3 separate regions of the Homo sapiens genome follow, and all the other regions are linked to region 2. The links come from fine-mapping of genetic effects on gene expression. A gene starts in region 2. Each other region holds a variant in brackets. All regions are shown on one strand. Distances are between the middles of the regions. Region 1 holds the start of LOC112268423 (a long non-coding RNA gene). Region 2 holds the start of SLC35F5 (solute carrier family 35 member F5). Region 3 overlaps SLC35F5 (solute carrier family 35 member F5).

What was found. PIP is the estimated chance that this variant, and not a neighbour inherited with it, causes the effect.
Region 1: its variant is the best candidate, but not a certain one, in a credible set for the expression of SLC35F5 in whole blood (TOPMed, PIP 0.75).
Region 3: its variant is the best candidate, but not a certain one, in a credible set for the expression of SLC35F5 in whole blood (INTERVAL, PIP 0.69).

The regions. Positions count from the first base shown.
Region 1 is chr2:113,645,666-113,653,089 of GRCh38, forward strand. It overlaps LOC112268423 (a long non-coding RNA gene), which reads right to left and starts at 229. Exons shown (of 2, transcript XR_002959416.2): 1 at 1-229. The variant G/A (reference allele first, on the strand shown) is at 3,701.
Region 2 is chr2:113,753,480-113,760,903 of GRCh38, forward strand. SLC35F5 (solute carrier family 35 member F5) reads right to left here and starts at 3,163. Exons shown (of 16, transcript NM_025181.5): 1 at 2,891-3,163; 2 at 1,975-2,065; 3 at 1,686-1,827. The coding sequence starts at 2,930. RefSeq lists a silencer at 3,089-3,318 and enhancers at 3,529-3,708, 3,889-3,938.
Region 3 is chr2:113,723,973-113,731,396 of GRCh38, forward strand. It overlaps SLC35F5 (solute carrier family 35 member F5), which reads right to left. Exons shown (of 16, transcript NM_025181.5): 11 at 5,429-5,533; 12 at 1,406-1,565. Among named protein-coding and RNA genes, the nearest start is that of MIR4782, 6.3 kb to the left of the region's middle. The variant A/G (reference allele first, on the strand shown) is at 3,898.

The DNA of each region.
Region 1 (7,424 bases), 110 kb before region 2:
GAGAAGACCCTAAGCTTTTTCCTTTGGAAGATCTCTAGGTCCAGGGTTATCAAGAAGTGAAGGCTAAGACAGAGTTGTTAATATCCTGGTTAGGTGTTGAAGGAATGCCCCAGCACAAAGCCAATCTGCAAAGATTGAAAGAGATGCTTAAAAAAATTTTTTTTTTCAACCACGGATGAATACATAAAGAAAATGTGGCATATACGTACAATGGAACATCATTCAGCCTTTTTAAAAAAGGAAATCCTGGCCTGGCGCAGTGGCTCACGCCTGTAATCCCAGCACTTTGGGAGGCCGAGGCCAGCGGATCACAAGGTCAGGAGATCGAGACCATCCTGGCTACGGTGAAACCCCATCTCTACTAAAAATACAAAAAAAAAAAAAAAAAAAAACTAGCCAGGCATGGTGGCGGGCACCTGTAGTCCCAGCTACTTGGGAGGCTGAGGCAGGAGAATGGCGTGAACCCAGAAGGCAGAGCTTGCAGTGAGCCTAGATCACGCCACTGCACTCCAGCCTGGGCAACAGAGCGAGACTCAGTCTCAAAATAAAATAAAATAAAATAAAATAAAAAGGAAATCCTTCCATTTGCAGCAAATATACTAAGTTAAAGAAGCCGGACACAGTAGGACAGATACTACATGATCTCACTTACATAAGGAATCTAAAATATTCAAACTGAGAAGCAGAGAGTAGAATGGTGGTTGCCAAGGGCTAGGGGGAGGAGGAAACAAGCAGGCATTGCTCATTGGGTGCAAAGCTTCAGCTATGCCGGAGGGATGAGTCCTAGAGACCTCCTGTACAGCATAGTGACTATAGTTAACAACACTGTATTACATACTTAAAGATTTACTGGAAATAGATCTTATGTTAAGTGTCCTTATCACAAAACATGAGAATTAGAAATGAAGAGAGAGGGAGCAAACTTTTTGAAGTGATGAATATGTTTATGGCATTCATTGTGGTGACGTTTTTATGGGTATATACTTATTTCAAACTCATCAAGTGGTATACCTTAAATATGTATATCGATAAAATGGTTTTTAAAAATACATGAAGCAAATGCACATTTCTCCAAAGAAAATATACAAATGGCCGATAAGTACATGAAAAGATGCTCAACATCATTAGTCATGAGAGAAATGCAAATCAAAACCAGAATGAGATGCCACTTACTGGTAATGAAAAAGATAATAGCAAGTGTTAATGAGGCTGTGGAGAAATCGGAACCCTTATACACTGCTGAGGAGGAAGTAAAATAGTGCAGGCACTTTGGAAAACAGTTTGGCAGTCCTGGAATGGTGAAATATCGAGTTAACCATATGATCCTGCAAATCTACTCCTAGGTATACACTCAAGAGAAATGAGAACATGTGCTCACAGAAAAGCTTGTATATGAGTGGTTATAGCAGCACTATCCATAATAACCAAAAAGCTGGAAATAATCCAAATATCCATAAAATGTGGTATATCCACACGATGAAATATTACTCAAAAATACAAAGAAATGAAGTGCTAATATGTGCTACAACATGGATGAAACTGAAAAAAAAGTATGTTGAATGAAAGACGCCACGTATAAAGCACCGCAGGTTGTGCGATTTCATTAATATGAAATGTCCAGAACAGGCAAATCTACAGAGACAGAAAGATTACTGAACAGAAAGATTACAGACAAAAATAACAGATAGTGGTTGTTTAGGGTGGGGGGGTTGCCGGTGAAGTTGGGAAGGAATTTGGTGGGGGCCAGGAAGCTAAGGGTACAGATTTTCAAGTAACGAGAATACTTTAAAATTAATTGTGGGTGGGTGCAGTGGCTCACGCCTGTAATCTCAGCACTTCGGGAGGCCAAGGAGGGCAGATCACTTGAGGCCAGGAATTCAAGACCAGCATGGCCGACATGGCAAAACCCCGTCTTTACTAAAAACATTAAAATTAGCTGGGTGTGGCGGCACATGACTGTAGTCCCAGTTACTAGGGAGGCTGAGATGAAAGGATCGCTTAAGCCCAAGAGTTCAAGGCTGCAGTGACCTATGATTGCACCACTACACTCCAGCTGGGATGACAGAATGAGACCCTGCCTCTAAATAAAATAAATACATAAATAAATAAGAGAAGTCCAGCAGCATATTAAAAGGATAATACACATGACTAAAGTGGAGTTTATCCCAGGAGTGCAATGTCAGTTAAACATTTAAAAATTATTTAATGGGGCCGGGCGCGGTGGCTCACGCCTGTAATCCCAGCACTTTGGGAGGCCGAGGCGGGCGGATCACGAGGTCAGGAGATCGAGACCATCCTGGCTAACACAGTGAAACCCTATCTCTACTAAAAAATACAAAAAAAATTAGCCGGGCATGGTGGCGGCCACCTGTAGTCCCAGCTACTCGGGAGGCTGAGACAGGAGAATGGCATGAACCCGGGAGGCGGAGCTTGCAGTGAGCTGAGATCGCACCACTGCACTCCAGCTCGGGCGACAGAGTGAGACTCCGTCTCAAAAAAAAAAAAAAATTAATGGGCCTGGGCACGGTGGCTCACGCCTGTAATCCCAGCACTTTGGGAAGTCAAGGTGGGCGGATCCCGAGGTCAGGAGTTCGAGACCAGCCTGGCCAACATGGTGAAACCCCGTCTCTACTAAAAATACAAAAAATTAGCCAGGCGTGGTCGTGGGCGCCTATAGTCCCAGCTACTCGGGAGGCTGAAGCAGGAGAATCGCTTGAACCCACGAGGGGGAGGTTGCAGTGAGCTGAGATCACACGCCACTGCACTCTAGCCTGAGCCACAGTGCAAGATTCTGTCTCAAAAAAAAAAAAAGTATTGGAAGCAAGAAAAGGATAAACTAAATCTTGCGGTACTGGATAAGAGGTGAAAGTATTATCGTGAACTCTCATTTAGCTTTATATATATATAAAATGGATAGATACAAAAACAATAATAGATACATGTGTGTACATGGGTTAGTATACAACATATATTACCTAACTGTCTCATCCAGCTTTGAGGGCTTAGAAGTAATACATCTCAGTATTGACAAGCACACCCAGTGTCCAGATCTTAGTTTCTAAAAAAACACTTTCCAGTGAAAAAACCAGATTACTTTAGAGAAATGGTGGATTCCAGGGTTGAAGCAGGGGAAATGCAAAATGAGCCTGTAGCACCTATTATATCAGAAAGGAAGGATGTGCTCAACAAATTAAATGAAGCCGGGAATGAAGCCACGGGTGCAATGGCTCACACCTGTAATCCCAGCACTTTGGAAGGCAGAGGTAGGAGGATTGCTTGAGGCCGGGAGTTCAAGACCACACCAGCCTGGGCTGTAACATAGAAAGAACCTATCTCCATAAAATAAAAATAAATTAGTAATAATTTTTTAATTTAAAAAATGATGAAGGCATGTCAAAGGGACTCAAGAGCCAATATGAAAGGGCTCCCAATGGGCAAAGCTGGAAAAATGTGAGCAACAAATTATATAATGTCATATTGGTTTATAGTCCACTGTATAAAATAAATATACATTAGGGATCTACACTAATATAATGAATAGATGAATAATAAGAGACAAATCTTTCATACAGAAAAATTAAAAATACTATGTGTAACTCCTGCCATCTGCAGGGGGTGGAGCCAACACCCCCAACCACCATCACTACAGAGAATGGGCTGGACTGAGTGGCTCACTTCTAAAGAAGCACTTATAGAAAGC[G/A]AACAGTGATGAAACCCAGAAAACACTGCCCTGACCAACGGATCAAGGTTAATGTCATCACTGTTGTCATATGTATGTTGTAGACTCCTGATAGGATGTGATGAGGATAATTTGTCTCTATGAGACTTTTTCCCAAAATTCATAATCCCAATATAATCATGAGAAAAATATTACACAAATTCAAATGGAGGGATATTCTACAAAATACCTAACTATCCCTCAAATTTGTCAAGGTCATATAAGAGCAAAGAAAGACTGAGAAATAGTCTCAAACTAGAGGATTAAATCTGTAACAATCTGTGACTACTATAAATCTAAAGTTGTTCTAAAATAGTTTATTTAATACACCAGATTAACTAAGTAAAAACAGAAAAATTACATGATCATCTCAATAAATGTAGGAAAAGCTGGCAAAATTCAACACTCATTACTGTGTAAAAAATAAAAATATAAACCTCTTAGCAAAAATATAAACCTCTATATTTTTCTTAGAGAATAAAATATCCTCAGCCTAATAAATGGTATTTGTGAAAAACCCACAGTTAACATCACACTTAATGGCAACAGACTGAAGCTTTTCATGCTTAAGCTCAGGAACAAGAATGTCCACTCTCACCACTTCCATTCAGCATTGTACTGTGAAATAAGGCAAGAAAAACAAGGGCTTTCAGATAGAAAAACATAAATAAGGTTGGGCGTGGAGGCTCACACCTGTAACCCCAGCACTTTGGGAGGCCGAGTTGGGTGGTTCACCCGAGGTCAGGAGTTCAAGACCAGCCTGGCCAACATGGTGAAACCCAATCTCTACTAAAAATACAAAAATTAGCCAGGCGTTCTGGCACATGCCTGTAGTCCCAACTACTCGTGAGACTGAGGTAGGAGAATCACTTGAACCTGGGAGGCAGAAGTTGCAGTGAGCCAAGATTGTGCCACTGCACGCCAGCCTGGAAGACAGAGCGAGACTCCATCTCAAAAATAAAGAAAGAAATAACACTGTCTTTATTCACAGAAGACTTGATTGTCTATGTTGAAATCCAGTGGCAGCTACAGAGCACCAGAATTAATAAATGAACTTGGCATGGTTTCAAGATACATGGGAACCACACAAAAATCAATTGTATTTCTGTATACTGGCAGTCAACAATTGAATATCAGAATACGAAATATTGAGAAATAATTCTGACAAAATATGTGAAAAACCTGCACACTCAAAATTACAAAACATTGCTGAGAGAAATTGAAGCAGCCCTAAATAAATGAATAGATACCCTGAGCTCATGACTCAGAGGACACAGTACCCTAAATAAATGAATAGATACCCTGAGCTCATGACTCAGAGGACACAGTACCCTAAATAAATGAATAGATACCCTGAGCTCATGACTCAGAGGACACAGTACCCTAAATAAATGAATAGATACACTGAGCTCATGACTCAGAGGACGCAGTACCCTAAATAAATGGATACACTGAGCTCATGACTCAGAGGACGCAGTACCCTAAATAAATGAATAGATACACTGAGCTCATGGCACAGAGGACACAGTACCCTAAATAAATGAATGGATACCCTGAGCTCATGACTCAGAGGACACAGTACCCTAAATAAATGAATAGATACCCTGAGCTCATGACTCAGAGGACGCAGTACTCTAAATAAATGAATAGATACCCTGAGCTCATGACTCAGAGGACACAGTACCCTAAATAAATGAATAGATACCCTGAGCTCATGACTCAGAGGACGCAGTACCCTAAATAAATGAATAGATACCCTGAGCTCATGACTCAGAGGACGCAGTACCCTAAATAAATGAATAGATACCCTGAGCTCATGACTCAGAGGACGCAGTACCCTAAATAAATGAATAGATACACTGAGCTCATGACTCAGAGGACGCAGTACCCTAAATAAATGAATAGATACCCTGAGCTCATGACTCAGAGGACGCAGTACCCTAAATAAATGAATAGATACCCTGAGCTCATGACTCAGAGGACGCAGTACCCTAAATAAATGAATAGATACACTGAGCTCATGACTCAGAGGACGCAGTACCCTAAATAAATGAATAGACACACTGAGCTCATGACTCAGAGGACACAGTACCCTAAATAAATGGATACACTGAGCTCATGACTCAGAGGACACAGTACCCTAAATAAATGAATAGATACCCTGAGCTCATGACTCAGAGGACACAGTACCCTAAATAAATGAATAGATACCCTGAGCTCATGACTCAGAGGACGCAGTACCCTAAATAAACGAATAGATAGCCTGAGCTCATGACTCAGAGGACGCAGTACCCTAAATAAATGAATAGATACCCTGAGCTCATGACTCAGAGGACGCAGTACCCTAAATAAATGAATACATACCCTGAGCTCATGACTCAGAGGACGCAGTACCCTAAATAAATGAATAGATACCCTGAGCTCATGACTCAGAGGACGCAGTACCCTAAATAAATGAATACATACCCTGAGCTCATGACTCAGAGGACGCAGTACCCTAAATAAATGAATAGATACCCTGAGCTCATGACTCAGAGGACGCAGTACCCTAAATAAATGAATAGATACCCTGAGCTCATGACTCAGAGGACGCAGTACCCTAAATAAATGAATAGATACACTGAGCTCATGACTCAGAGGACGCAGTACCCTAAATAAATGAATAGATACCCTGAGCTCATGACTCAGAGGACGTAGTACCCTAAATAAATGAATAGACACACTGAGCTCATGACTCAGAGGACACAGTAACCTAAATAAATGGATACACTGAGCTCATGACTCAGAGGACACAGTACCCTAAATAAATGAATAGATACCCTGAGCTCATGACTCAGAGGACACAGTACCCTAAATAAATGAATGGATACCCTGAGCTCATGACTCAGAGGACACAGTACCCTAAATAAACGAATAGATACACTGAGCTCATGATTCAGAGGACGCAGTACCCTAAATAAACGAATAGATACCCTGAGCTCATGACTCAGAGGACGCAGTACCCTAAATAAATGAATAGATACCCTGAGCTCATGACTCAGAGGACACAGTACCCTAAATAAATGAATAGATACCCTGAGCTCATGACTCAGAGGACACAGTACCCTAAATAAATGAATAGATACCCTGAGCTCATGACTCAGAGGACGCAGTACCCTAAATAAATGAATAGACACACTGAGCTCATGACTCAGAGGACACAGTACCCTAAATAAATGGATACACTGAGCTCATGACTCAGAGGACACAGTACCCTAAATAAATGAATAGATACCCTGAGCTCATGACTCAGAGGACACAGTACCCTAAATAAATGAATAGATACCCTGAGCTCATGACTCAGAGGACGCAGTACCCTAAATAAATGAATAGACACACTGAGCTCATGACTCAGAGAACACAGTAACCTAAATAAATGGAAACACTGAGCTCATGACTCAGAGGACACAGTACCCTAAACAAATGAATAGATACCCTGAGCTCATGACTCAGAGGACATAGTACCCTAAATAAATGAATAGATACCCTGAGCTCATGACTCAGAGGACGCAGTACCCTAAATAAATGAATAGATACCCTGAGCTCATGACTCAGAGGACGCAGTACCCTAAATAAATGAATAGATACCCTGAGCTCATGACTCAGAGGACGCAGTACCCTAAATAAATGAATAGATACCCTGAGCTCATGACTCAGAGGACGCAGT
Region 2 (7,424 bases):
TCTCCAAAGTTTAATGAGCATAACTGGTTGAAGAAGTAGAGACATTACATACATTCTTGAATAATGAGATTGTAAAACATCCTCTTACTAAAATATTTTACTTTAAAAAAATTAAGGTAAGTTGAGTTTTTTCCTCCAGTTTCATCAAAGTACAACTGACAAACACCAAATATATGTATTTTTTACAACATGGTGTTTCGATATATGTATACATTGTGAAATGATTACCACAAACAACAAATTGTTTTTTCCTTTCTACTTTGCTTAGATATGGTTAAATGATAATTTAACCAGGTGCTATTTTGTCCTAAATTTTATTAACTAATATATAAAAACAAACTATTTATTTTAAATGAAAATAAAATTTAAAAGATAGGTTTAGTTCCCTGTCAATATCAAAGACATTTCTTTGAGGTAGAAGTACAAAATGTTCATCTAAAAGAAGGTTAGAGAAGAGTTTTAAAGCAAAAAATATATGGTCTATTAGATTCCAGAGATTAATTCTGAAAAGCATAAAAACTTATATACTTGGCCAGGTGAGGTGGCTCACGTCTGTAATCCCAGCACTTTGGGAGGCCGAGGCGGGCGGATCATGAGGTCAGGAGTTTGAGACCATTCTGACCAACATGGTGAAACCCCGTCTCTACTAAAAATACAAAAATTAGCCTGGCGTGGTGGGGTGTGCCTGTAATCCCAGCTATTCAGGGGGCCGGGGCAGGAGAATCCCTTGAACCCGGGAGGCGGAGGTTGCAGTGAGCCGAGATCGCACCATTGCACTCCAGCCTGGGCGACAGAGCAGAGCAAGACTCCATCTCAAAAAAAAAAGAAAAAAAAAAAAAAACTTATATACTCATAGGATACAATGCCAATGTCAATATTTACTTAGCTACAATATGAGACCTGAGTATTAAACTGCTTCTTTTGAAAATTAGGTTCATTTTATAAATGCCAGTTTCCTGCTGTATATTCGCCTTAAAATTGCAACGTAGAAGTTGAAATGCAGACTTCTGAAAATAAAAGTTGCTTTTTATAGGGATCATTAACCAAGCAGAATAAAGTATACAAGTAGAAAGAAAAACTAGCTTGCAAATTCAAAATGCCACATTACTACCAATAGGTCATCAATAAAGACACAATTTAACTGAAGGAAACTGTCAAGATACAATTTAACTGAAGGAAAATTATGAGGTATACCATGCATCTTATAATAAGGTTTGAGTCAGCAAGCATAAATGTGGATGCAACCACTCATGGGCATTGTAACAGTGACCTATACATGAAAACTCATTATTTTTACTCATTTGTCCAAAAGCACTCTGAACCTTCTACTAAATGGTGACATTGTTTTGCATCCTGACAGTTATTTCACTAGAAAATAATATTTACAGAAAGAATTTGAATTTAGAAAAAAAGCCACGAGTTACACTTTCAAATGTAAGAAAATATGCATAGTCTCTCTAAGTAACCCTCCCTAAAAGATACAAGAAAACTGTATGAAACAATAAAAAGGATCATCCTTTCAGTTTTAACTTCAAGTGGCAATAATTCAACGTTTTTTAAAAATTCAATAGTATTTAAGATACTGCTTTTAGAAAGCAGGAGATTGTAACGGCTAGAGTTACTACAGGTTAAGAGTTAACATTGTGGCTGTAATGTAACATCATTCCTGGACCAAAGGTACATACCGAAGTAAGTTCAGAGGAAGCAACCCATATCACATCAACAAGCAGAAGAATAACAATCCCAAGAGCCATTCGCCTGCGCTGAGTGAAACCACTGTTCTGGGAATTCATTCGGTTCATGACAAATACACACACCATTTGCAGTCTGTTTTTTAGAAAATACAGATCACATTAGAGATGATTTTAGAAAAACAACCATTAAAAATGAGAACATTAGTATAACAGAAACATTTGACTTTTGTTAGCTAATGTTCAGTGTGAAAGTTACATAGAGGATAAACGTGGAATCTACCTTGTCTTAAGAGCCCTTCTGAGATCCTCAAGAGCAATGCCGGAAAACTTGGCAGATCTCAGTCTAAAAGGAGGTGAAGAACTCAGCACCCCTAAAAACAACCATGAAATTATGCTATGAAAACGTGAATAACTCAAGGTAAGATTCATCACATCGTTTTTTACTCTTCATCTTCAAACTCAAAGCAAATCAATGAAAAGGACCAAAATGTGTTAAACATACTTGCCACCTTTCTCAGTACTTTCATGGTATCCACTGCACGCTTCAGATTATACTTAGAGAGATACGCGATACGGGGCGGGCAGGGAGGGGGAGTAATATACAACATACGGCACATTTAAGAACAGTTAACTACCAGAAAATAGCTTCTCTGAGTTTCACAAATACGGAACTCCATTCACCTCTCCATCCAGAGGAATCCATCCCTGGGGACAGCGTCTAGACACTGTTTCTAAAAGTGTCTTTTCTGTCCCTGATCTGCTGGAGTGGAATTTGGTTATCGGAGAGTAAGTGATTTGCTGTGGGTCTTGAAGGCACCTTTCCAATCTCTTCAAGTGGTAAAAGAAAAGGATTCTCCATGCTCCTCCACCCACCTCTATCAAAACATCCAGTCATTTTAAAAGAAACAGCTGGGAAAAGAAATCATCCTTCTGTTTTGGAGCGGGGAAGACAGTTAAGGCAGCGACGCCTCCCCGGGGAGCCGAGGCGAGGGCGCACGCACGGCTTCCTCAATTGCCAGCGGTGGGCGCAGGGCTCCGGCGCCCCTGTCAGCTCCCGCTCCCTCCGCCCCTAGAGACCTTCACGGTTTCGGTCAAGGCGCTCCTGCTGCCACCGAGGGCAGGAGGTGGTGCTGCTGGTGGGCACTCCGTCCCGGTTTGGGCTCCGGTGATGTCGGGGCCCTTCCCTGCCTGCCTACCTGGCCTTCCTGCCCCGCGATGGCGTCGTGGCGGCACCATGAGCGGACCGGTCAGGCCCCGCAGCCGCCCAGCGCCACGGCCGCGGCCTCGGACTCACAGAGCTGTCACCGCGCCTGACATCGCGCCGCACTGGAGGCCCAGCTCCTGAAGACGCGGTGCCCCTCAGGGAGAGGCTCCCGACACCACCCAACTCCACTCGGCCCAGGAGGGCGTGGAGCGGGTGAGGGGAAGGGACGGCACAGTCAGCTATGGCCGCGGAGGCCCGGAGATCTGCTCTGGCCCCGGCCCCGCCCCCGGCTTGCCCTCCGCGCGGCCCCGCCCCCAGTCCCCAGCCCGGAAGCGGTGGCGCGCGGGTGACGTCATAGGGGCGCGACGGCGGACTGCGCGCGGTCGCGTATGCAGCGAGGCTTGGCGGAGCTAGGGGAAGTAATGCGAGGCTCTGGTCGCCGAGCGAGGGCTCGCGGCGGCGAGGCGAAAGAAGAGAGAAGATAGGAAGAAGGGAAGTAGGGCGAGGTGGAGGAAGAAGAGGAAAGCGAGCGTGGGTGTCTGGGGCAGAGCAAAGGACGAGGGAGTGGCTAAACCTCCGCCCGCCTTAGAACGAAAGCTGGCCGTTCCGTTTCACAAACTGCGAACCTGAAACTTCGGATATCCCTTTCTCGATGACAGCCGAAACGCAAAGTGGCTTAGAGTACTTTTGATTCTTGAAACCTTTTGTATATAAACAAGATCTCAGCTCTAGGAGTTACAACCTACATCCTAGGCCAAGCTACTTCAACTTCTCTGGTCCTCGGTTTCCTTGTCTACGATAATGATAGTACCTGCCACATTGGTTTTTTGTGTGTATGCTAGGATTGCATGAGTTTACATATGTGAAGGACGTAGATCAATTCATGGCACATAATAAGAACCTCACAGACGTCAGCAATTTTTTGTTCGTTCGTTTGTTTTGAGACAGGGTCTTTCTCTGCCACCCAGGCTGCAGTGCAGTGGCACAATCACAGCTCACTGCAACCTCTGCTTCCCGGGCTCAAGCGATTCTCCAGCCTCAGCTTCCAGTGTAGCCGGGACTACAGGCGCAAGCCACCAATGCCCGGCTAATTTTTATATTTTTTAGTAGAGACAGGGTTTCGCCATGTTGGCCAGGCTGGTCTCGTACTCCTAGTCTTAAGTGATCCGCCCGCCTCGACCTCCCGAAGTGCTGGAATTACAGGCATGAGCCCTGCCAAATGTTGGCAGTTATTAAACTGTATAGATTTGTTCCTTAAATATTTTGACTATTCCATGAGAAAGGTTTGTCCAGCATCTTGATTTCTATCTACAAAACAAAAACAAGACTAAAGGGTTCAGTAATTTAACATCTTGGTCAGATGGCGTGAAGAAATTAAATTTTCTTACTCCTATAGTCGCGATGTAGTGTACCTCTTACCTTTTAAGTCTCGTTTCAGTGAAGTTGAATGCATATTCTAGCAACTAATAAAACAATACCAATGAACATTTTTTAATTGATCGAATCAGTTTCAAACTATCAGCATCAAACACCTCTAATAAGTCATTCAGAAACCTATTGTGCAGAGTAAAAAAAAAAACCAACCAGGCCGGTCGCGGTGGCTCATGCCTGTAATCCCAGCACTTTGGGAGGCCGAGGCAGGTGGATCACGAGGTCAGGAGATGGAGACCATCCTGGCTAACACGGTGAAACCCCGTCTCTATTAAAAAAATGCAAAAAATTAGGCGGGGGTGGTGGCGGGCGCCTGTAGTCCCAGCTACTCGGGAGGCTGAGGCAGGAGAATGGCGTGAACCCGGGAGGCGGAGCTTGCAGTGAGCCGAGATCGCGCCACTGCACTCCAGCCTGGGCAACAGAGCGAGACTCCGTCTCAAAATAAATAAATAAATAAATAAATCCTTAACCAACTACTTGGTATTACTACTTAGGGGAAATTTGGTTGCAGACATTAATCACATTAGTCTGGCACCAGTTTGTTTTTTATTTCATTAGCATTCTTTAGGGTATCAGCCCATAATACGCCTAAGAATTCTTTATGCTACATATTTGATGTATAGTCTTAAAAAATAAGAGCATTATAAATCTCTCTCAGAATCTAAGAGTCAGGAAAGCTGGATACCAATGCTTTATCTGACTACAACTTGTTATGTAATCCTGAGGATCATTCCACTCTCTACTGTGCCTTAGTTTCTTCTATAAATATGGGTTTCTGAATTAAAATATTGTAAATGATAGTACTTTGTTAAGTTACCATTATTACCACCTGTTTCCAGACCATCTGTTAAAGGACAAGCTGTGGATATTCTTGTAACGGATAAAGTAATTCTGGCAGACTGTCTTCAGCGAGTCTCAAAACATAGTTCAACTTCCATTAATGTCTTTTCCCTGGGTTCTTTAAGGGAAATTCCACTGGACTGCTGTAACATAGGCCCTAGTGTGTTTCTGTGCTTTGGCACCATCCTGAGCATCTCAGGCATTCCTTTTTTCATCCTTATTTCTCTGTGTTACCCAAGGCTAAATCTTCAGCTGTATAATTTCAAAGATAAGTTCCACAAGAGCAAGGATTTTGGTCTATTTTGTTCTTCACTATTATCCTCAGCATCTAGAATAGTGCTTACTATTCTCTAGCTGGCAGTCAATGTTTGTTCAATGAACTTGAACATCCTGCTGTCTCTTGATCTTTTCCTCATACTTAATTCCTTTCTGAAGTCTCCATTTCTGTCATTTAGTAGTGAGAAAAGAAAATTATTTTTATCTGAGGAATGTAGTTATTTTAAACTGTCAGGCCCAGAGGGACATTAAAAGGAGACAACAATCACATCCTACTTCTCCCTTGTGCTATGTATTCATCTCTTGAAACTACTTGCTTATGCCACAAGTAGCTATAAATTAACCTAATGTCCCATTGGACAGTATAACCCACATCCTATAGCTTAACAATGTAACCAATCACTAATAAATGTTATTTCCATAAACCAATAAGAATTTCTGTACACAACGTGGTATCAGCCCACTCCTTGTTCCCTTTTTTGCCTTTAAAGATTCCCTTGTGGGCCAGGCGCAGTCGCTCACGCCTGTAATCCCAGCATTTTGGGAGGCCGAGGCAGGCGGATCACGAGGTCAAGAGTTCAAGACCAGCCTGACCAACGTGGCGAAACCCTGTCTCTACTAAAAATACAAAAATTAGCCAGGTGTGGTGGCACGCACCTGTAATCGCAGCTACTCAGAGGCTGAGGCAGGAGAATCTCTTGAACCTGGGGGTGGAGGTGGCAGTGAGCCGGGATGGTGCCATTGACTCCAGCCTGGGCAACAGAGCGAGACTCTGTCTCAAAGTAAATAAATAAATAATAAAGATTCACCTGTGGTGGCTGCTAATGGTGTGTATATTCAAGGCAACTTGAATATATGCTCCTAGGTTGCAATCTTCAAGCTTGACCCAAATTAACTCTACTTATATTAATTTTGCTTCAGCTTCTTCCTTTTAGGTCAACAGAGTAGCACTATTTTTCTAAGTCCCACAGGCTTAATCTTTTAATTTTATTAATTTCCTCTTTACTCTTCAAAGTCGATCACTCTTGAAATTTCTCAATAGCAGGCCCTGAAGATACATAAGGTGTTAAGTTCAATGCCTTCCAAAATAATCCCCCAAAATACACTCTAGAGAATATAATTTCCCCAGTAAGGTGCATGTGTCACAGTGTGAATACAAAAGCAAAATCATATGTGTGTACAGGGCAGTCACTAACTGCCATATATCAGTCTCAAATAGTATAATTCAAATCCCAGCCCTAATAAAATTATAAATGACTATATCTTGAGTCTTTGGGGGTATAAATTAATAATTGAAACCACCTATAATAATTCTGTAATTCCAAGAGCAGAAATAAATGGAGAACACTCAAATGAGTACAAGCAAAGGATATTTATTCAAAGCTTGCTGTAGCAAAGCAGTCAGCCACCATCACTTGTGTTTTTCAGAGATCGGAAGGCAGGCAGGAGAGTGTGAAAGCTTTATAATGTGAAAAAAGGAAAGACTTCAGGTATGCCCTGATTTGATGTTGCTGGCTGGAGGCAGGTTAAGTGGAAGCACGGCATCCTATGTGGTCAGTTGAGGATACATATTTGGCTTTCTCTGGTTGGTCCTAAGTTGGAAACAGGACAAAAACTAAGGAAACTGGCAGTTGATCAAGTCCTGGGATGATTAATGCAGAAATAGCTGTTGTCTTTCTGGACTAGTTCCTGGAGAGGTTGTAGGTCAGAGTTCTATTTTTATATATGTTCTGGTCATTGTCCATTTCTATATTCAGTCTGTCACAAGAGTACTCTATATCATCTTATTTTCTGCAGTACCTACCAGAATGCTGGGCACATGATCAGCTTGACAAATGCTTGTTGATTTGATTTCCTTCTAAGATGTAATTAAATGGATTGAGGTTGACAATTTTTAAAAATTATCGTATATAAAAGACTTATTTTGAATTTGAACCTTACAACGTTTTTTTGTTTGTTTGTTTTTGTTTTGTTTTGAG
Region 3 (7,424 bases), 30 kb before region 2:
TGTTAGGACTACAGATCCATGGAAGTTATAGGCAAGTAAAATCTAGCTCAGTATATGTCAGAATTAATAGTGCTGTCCTGCAATAAAAGGGGCTATCTCTCAATAAAGTGTCACTAGAAGTAATGAACAGAGGCTGAACAACGAGTCCTTATTGATGAGGTAAAGGAAACAAGTACTTGTGGTTCCCACTACTTAGCTGCTCTGTGAAAAGAGCATTCGGGGTCAAATACAGCATATGTTCTTGGATGTTTATCATGCAGAGTACTATAATAAAAAACCTGGGAGGTAGAATTATAAAGCCTGTTTGACTTAATCCAGCTGTTAAGGTGGATCCAATTTAGCTAAAGGCTAAAGCCTTTTGTCATCTGTTAATAGTTAAGGTTAAAAAAATCGAGTATCTAAAATGTACATAACTAAAGATGAAAAAATTAATGAGCAAATGGATTATGATTTTAAAGAATTTTAGATCAGCAAAGGAGTTTAGATAAGAACATAAATTACTACAATACAAAGTAAATCTTTAAGTATTACACAAAAGAGAGTGATATGGGGGATACCAAGAAAATAGGTATTTCTTAACTGGGCAGGGAGACAGCACTGTAGGCAGAGCATTAAGGAAGACTCCACAAAAAAGTCTATTTCTGTTGCAGTCTTTTGCAAGGGAAAACTAGTTAGCAGTTTCAATGGGTATGTAATAAAACTCATTTTATTCACTTAGGTTTTATTCATTCTATTCATTTCAAGTTTCTATTAAATAAAAATAGGACTAAGTATAAAGCTCTGTTATTTGAAAGGTCTCTCAAACTCCATACATGATACTGTCTTCATACTATTTTAAGTTTATTATCGCATATCAGTATATTGGATATACAGCATATCAAAGTATGTTAACATCTCAAATCAATCAGAGTTTAAGGTTTACATATCTGGCTCACCCATATGAAAGGTTCTGAAAATAAATAAAACAAAAACACCTATGAACAAGCAAACAGATATTCCAAAGCCTCTTAAATAAGCAGCATCTCCTGGATTCTCAACTAGAACTCATGCACTCATACTTGGCATACATACCTCATATGTTTGGATATCCATTAGATAATGACTACTTTCATTTGCATAACACTCCACTTTCTAAAACATTTTTACAGATTTAGACCATTCATATTCATTCTTTCATTCAACAAGTATTTATTGAGCTCCTTCTGTGGACAAGGTACTACTCTAGAATGGGCACACAGAAGTTAAAAAACAAAGTCCCTGCTCTAGTGGAGTTAAAGTATTCAGTTGTATGTGTGTTGCAGAATGGGGTGCACAGGAAGGGCCACCAGCAAACAGACAAATATAAATGCTTAAAATATCCAAAAATTAATCAACTGATAATAATTGGAGAATAAACAGTACATACCACAACCACAGGAACTCTGAGAGTACTGTTCCAATAAGGCCATTAATGATAATGCACATTAATACTACTTTATTGGGAAACTCGAAGTCCTCAAATCCAGTATAATGAAGTAAAAAGAAACCTGGCCATAAGAGCAGCAGATTAAACAAACCTACAAAACCTGAACATGTATAAAAGAGACAAGAGTTAAAATTGATTTATTTCTATTTTCCAAGCTTATTAACTCTAAAATCAAAATTAGATTTTGCACAAAAGCACTCTGGGAGGTTTCCTTAGCTAAAACTTCTGTTGGTTTGTTTTTAAGTCAGTCCTGTGAATAGCTCAACGCCATAGAAAAAAAAACTGTCTGAAGCAACTGGTGATCACTCAGTTCAACTACCCACATTGTATGGGAGCAACTACTATGGAATAAACCACTTAGGACAACTCAACAAGAAGGGTTGTTAACCTTAGCTACTGATAATATAGTGCCCTAGAACTTAAAAGAAATAACTGGTATGTATGTGTTTGTGTACTCAGCCTAAATTAATTTTGAGGAATTAGATGGTTTGCTCTCTGATTCAATTATTTATGTCCAAAACACTTGTGCTTTGCGAGCAATAATGGAAGAAGGTTCCAAAGGAGATAAAACTCTTGGTTCCTGCATTCCCAGACCTCTAACTAGTTAGTGAGAAAGTATGTACACACAAAGAGCTATTCAACGTATGAGCAAAGTACAGACTGACTAGTGGTTAAGTGTGTGCTCGGCCATCTGACTGCCTGGGTCCAATCCCAGCTCTATATATCACTCAATAGTAGTGCAAGCCTTATACCTCTTTAAGCCTCAGTTTTCCAATCTATAAGCATAAAATAACATTTAATAATATTTAATTAGGTTGCTGGGAAGATTAGACAAAACACATAAAATATAGCATAGTATCTGGCACATGGTAAGCACTTAATAAAAGTTAGCTAATATTATTATAGAAATTAAGTTTATATATGACTATATACATGTAAAAGTAAAGAATATAAAGAAAAAAGATTACAATTCTATAATAAATTTTGTTGTACTTCCTATACAGTTTATGTCACAAATTTGCTATATGATTTATGTAACTATATAGCTTTCTTAAAAGAAAATTAAATTACAGTAGATATATAATTGATACTTACTATGTCACCTAAATAATAAACCAGTCATTAGGATGCCTAGTTAAATCTTAACAGGGCAGGAGCACCCACTCTCTGTCTGATGCTAAAGACTCACAGCCACCCCACTTCTGTGAAGGGGGGCAAATAAGTCTGCCTTTCCCAGCAAGTTCCCACCCTCCACTCCACCCCATCTTCTGCAGCTCATGACTAATTGATGGAGGCTTTACGAGGCCAGCCATCACGACTCAAGGCCCAGACATATTAGCTGCTCTCCCTCTGCTCCCCGCCTCAGTACCTGCAATGAATTGGGCCAAACCTCAGTTATACTTGTGCGCCACACGGTTCTTTCCCCTTCTCTATCTTGCTTCCTTCACTGCAAGTTTTTCCTTCAGTGAACTCCCCACAAAAAATCACCCACACAAATTCCCCATCTCATATCCTGTTTTAGGGAGCCCAACTATTATGGTTTGGCTCTGTGTCCCCACCCAAATCTCATCTTGACTTGTAATCCCCACGTGTCAGGGAGGGACCTGGTGGGAAGTGACTGGATCATGTGGGTGGTTTCCCCCATGCTGTTCCCATCATAGTGAGTTCTTACAAGATTTGATGGTTTTAAAGTGTTTGGCAGTTCCCCCTTCTCAAGTTCTCTCTCTCTTGCCAGTGTGTAAAACATGCCTTGCTTCCCCTTCACCTTACGTCATGATTGTAAGTTTCCTGAGGCCTCCCCAGCCATGCAGAACTGTGAGTCAATTAAACCTCTTTTGTTTATAAATTACCCAGTCTCAGGTAGTTCTTTATAGCAGTGTGAAAACAGACTAATACACCAACTTACATCTATTGATTAAAAAAACAACAACAAAAGAACACATATACAGCAAGGACACGACCTAAAATGCTTAAATAACATTACAAAGTTGTTTTAATGAAACACCAAAACGTGGCATTACCAAGATCTAAATCTATTTTCTAGTCCCTGAAGTGCTGAGTCTATGAAATCCCACGTAAATTAACATCCTTTGACCTAGAGACAAAAGTCCCAATGACCCCACCTATTCCCTCGACTGCCCAGAATCTGGCGCCACATGCCTTTCTGTTCTTCTTCCACAAAGCGAAGTTCCAGCACAATCATTCAGATCTACTCACTGCTCCCTGTTAAGCCTCTGCTCACACTCCCTTGCCTGAAGAGCCCCCAACATCCCAATCCTAACTTCTCCGAATCCTGTCTATTCTAAAGCCCAGGGCAGATCAATATTGCTTTACATATCACATCACATATGAACAGGACCAACACAAGCCACATGTCTATATGCACTCTCCCTAATATGAGTAAATTAAGCAATTTTTCTTGCAAGTTGTCA[A/G]TGTATAAATTTTTAAAAAGTACCACTGACCCAACCACCTACCTATAACACTAAAAAAAACTAGCATTTTATTCCATTCCAAATAAAATTTTCTATGACTCTCAAATAAAATATCATTAAAATTATCTTTTCTTTTTTAAGAGACAGCATCTTACTCTGTTACCCAGGCTAGAGTGCAGAGACACAATCATAGCTCACTGCAGACTCGAACTCCTGGACTCAAGTGATTCTCCTGCCTCAGCCTCTCATGCAGCTGGGATTACAAACACATGTAACCAAACCTGGCTATTATGCTATATTTCTTGAATTCTATATTTAAAAAGAATTTAAGCAATCATTCAGCCTCATGGCTTTTCAAACATTTTATTTTTGTTAGTCTTTAGGTACAAGTATTTAATCTATTTTTAGTTTTAAAATAGTTTTAAAATAGTCTTTTTTTAAAAAAAATTAAATAGAAATGCAGTCTCCCTATGTTGCCCAGGCTGATCTTGAATCCCTGGCTTCAAGCAGTCCTCCTGCCTCAGCCTCTCAAAGTGCTGGGATCACAGGCGTGAGCCACAATGCCCAGCCATAAGAAAAATCTTTACTATAAATTAAATTCTAATGCAAAATGCTCAACAAAGTAGAGCTGTTCCACAGGTGAAGCAGCAAAGGAGTCCAAGAACTAGACCCCTGCATGCAACTGTATTTCCTTCCAACCATCCCAGAAGCCTACCTATTCCCTAAATCACAGTTTAGAGGCCATTCATCTAGTCCAATTTCCTCATATTTCAGATGCCTATGAGATAAATAAAGTTACAACAGCTGGATTCCAGGTCTCCTGACTCCTTGTAAGCTGCACTTTGAACTCTTATCATGGAGCTTCTTTATCTATTTATATTCAGATATCTTTTGAAAGATTATCTTGTCAATGTGTTCTTCTCCAGTCCTACAGATATCGCAAGTTCTTTCCTGAACTGATGTCAGGCAAAGGAAAATTTATAAACCATATCCAGAAACTATAATTGGGTAATTTGAGAATGAATCTATGTTATAAAAGTGTCTGTGTCTTAAAGATAAAATGCAAATGAAAAGCATTTAAATGGCCCACAATTTTTAATGTACATAAGTACATAGACTGCGACAGCATTAAACATATAATTCGGGGGCAGTCTCCCCAGTCCTTTGCTAACTATTCAAAAATGGCAAAATGTAAAATACAGCAGGTAAACTCTCACATGCTTGTAAGAGCATAAATCTGTCCTATCAGTGAGATAAATATCTGACTTGCAGTCTGAAGACATCAATTTGAAAAAAGTGTTAGGAGTTTCTTTCTGTCTCACACTGAGGAGATGGGCACTCCCTCATAGGTGCACAACTATGCAGGATAAAGTAAGGAAAACATTGGGACTGGCCTTCATAATCTTTAAATGGTTTTAAAGAATCATACGGAAGAAAAAAAAAGGCTTCCCTATTCCCTCTGAAAAACAAAAGCAAAACCCTGTGTTAATCATTTAGAGTAAATAGCCTCCCAAGTTACATATATTCTTACCAAAGAACATTGGAATATCCAACTTGTCTTCTCTATCTACTTTTCTCTTAATCATAACAATATAGACAGCATAGAGCATGGCTCCAGCAAGAGACCAAATGGAACCTGTAAAAATGGACATGATTTAAAGCAATCACTCATTAGCTCATTCAATATACGCTTAAAATCCAATAATGTGTCAGATAATATTGCAAGAATATACAAAAGTGAAAAGATATATAATGATATAAATCACCTTTATATTGATATAAAGATATATAATGAAAAGGTATAGCCTACCCCATCCAAGTCTTCTAGGAGTACAGGAAGGAGTTTAATGTGTTAACAAATAAATGCAAAAGCATTCACCTCAATGATTCGACCAAAACCTATACATATTATAATAATACAACTCCAAAGTAACACTTTGTTTTTAATTTAGAAATGCATGTTTCTTATTTTACCCTACCTAAACAATCTTGACACCTGGCATTTTCCAACTTAACAAATTTTTTTTCCATCACTAAGCTGTTGCTTGTATTGTCTTCCTTACCCCCATATATCATTCTTAATATGTATTGCACTACCACTCCCATCTTAAAGGCTCTGTTAAAGTTCCATTTCTTCCACAAAGCATCCTCTTTCTAATCGGCTGTATTTCTGTCCTGTCTTCTGTTTTAGACAATACTTACTATTGTCAAGTGTGGTATTAGTTTAATCCCTAGTAGCTTCATTTTATAAATCTCATATTGTTCCAAATCAAGAACTCCTTGAAAACTGCAAACACATAATTTATACTTTTTAATGTTCCAAAACAGCTAACATAATACAGATCTCACAGTACATGAATAATAAATACTGATTCTCTTTATTAACTCTCAAAACCATTTAAACTTTTCAAAACAGCTAAATAATGTTCTGCCAAGTGGTCATATTCAATACTTTAATCAATTATTCAAAAGACGAATGTTTTATTAAATTTTTTTTATTATTTTCAAACTTTTTTTAAAGCTAAGGAAAAGCCTGTCAACAAAATCTTGCATACACATGCACATACCAAATACATATATTGTTTTATATACACAAAGCTGCTCTGGGTGAGAAAGAGGTGAGGAGGTTCAAAGCACAGCTCACTGGGTAGTAGCTAGGAACAATTTAGAAAGCATTGTTCTATTCAATAAACCTCAAATATCTAAAGAAGTATTCAAAGAGAAATAATTAATCTAGGTTTATTTTTTATTATGAGGTCTCACTATGCTGCCCAGGCTGGTATTGAACTCCTGGCCTCAAGCGATCCTCCCACCTTGGCCTCCCAAAGCACTGGGATAACAGGCATGAGTCACCATGCTCAGCCCAGCTAGGTTCTGATTACTTTTGTTTTTGTTAAGTCTAAGCAATGGATCAAAATCTAAGTGTTCACCATAGCAGTAACTATGAATCAAGAATCAAGAGTAAATGGCAATATTCGTGGGTGAAGATATGACAGCAACAGGAAATTTGTATAGCCTCAAAGTATCCCCCACAAGATGCTTATTACTTACAGTGGGAAATATTAGTAACTTTACACTGGAGTAGGGTGGTTAATTTTAACCACCTTAAAATTAACATTACCAGCAACAGGACAAATCAATATCATGTGCCTTTTGGTAGAATGCACTGATCAGGAAACAATATCACTTCCATTATATTCTTACCAAAAATGCACAACCTCAATTTAACCAAAGAAAATGTCAGACAAATGCAAATTGAGGAACATTCTACAAACCAACTAGGTGGTACCCTACAAAAGTGTCAAGGTCATAAAAGACAAGAAGACTGAGGAACACTTCTGCATTTAAAGGAAACTAAGGAAACACGACAATTAAATGCAATAAATGATCCTAGATCAGAAAAAGAACATTAGTGGAAAAAGTGGCAAAATTTGAAAAGGCTTTATAGATAACAGTATCATAATCAACGTTAATTTCTGATTTTTATAACTGTATAATATTTATGTAAGTTGTTAACATTTGAAAAA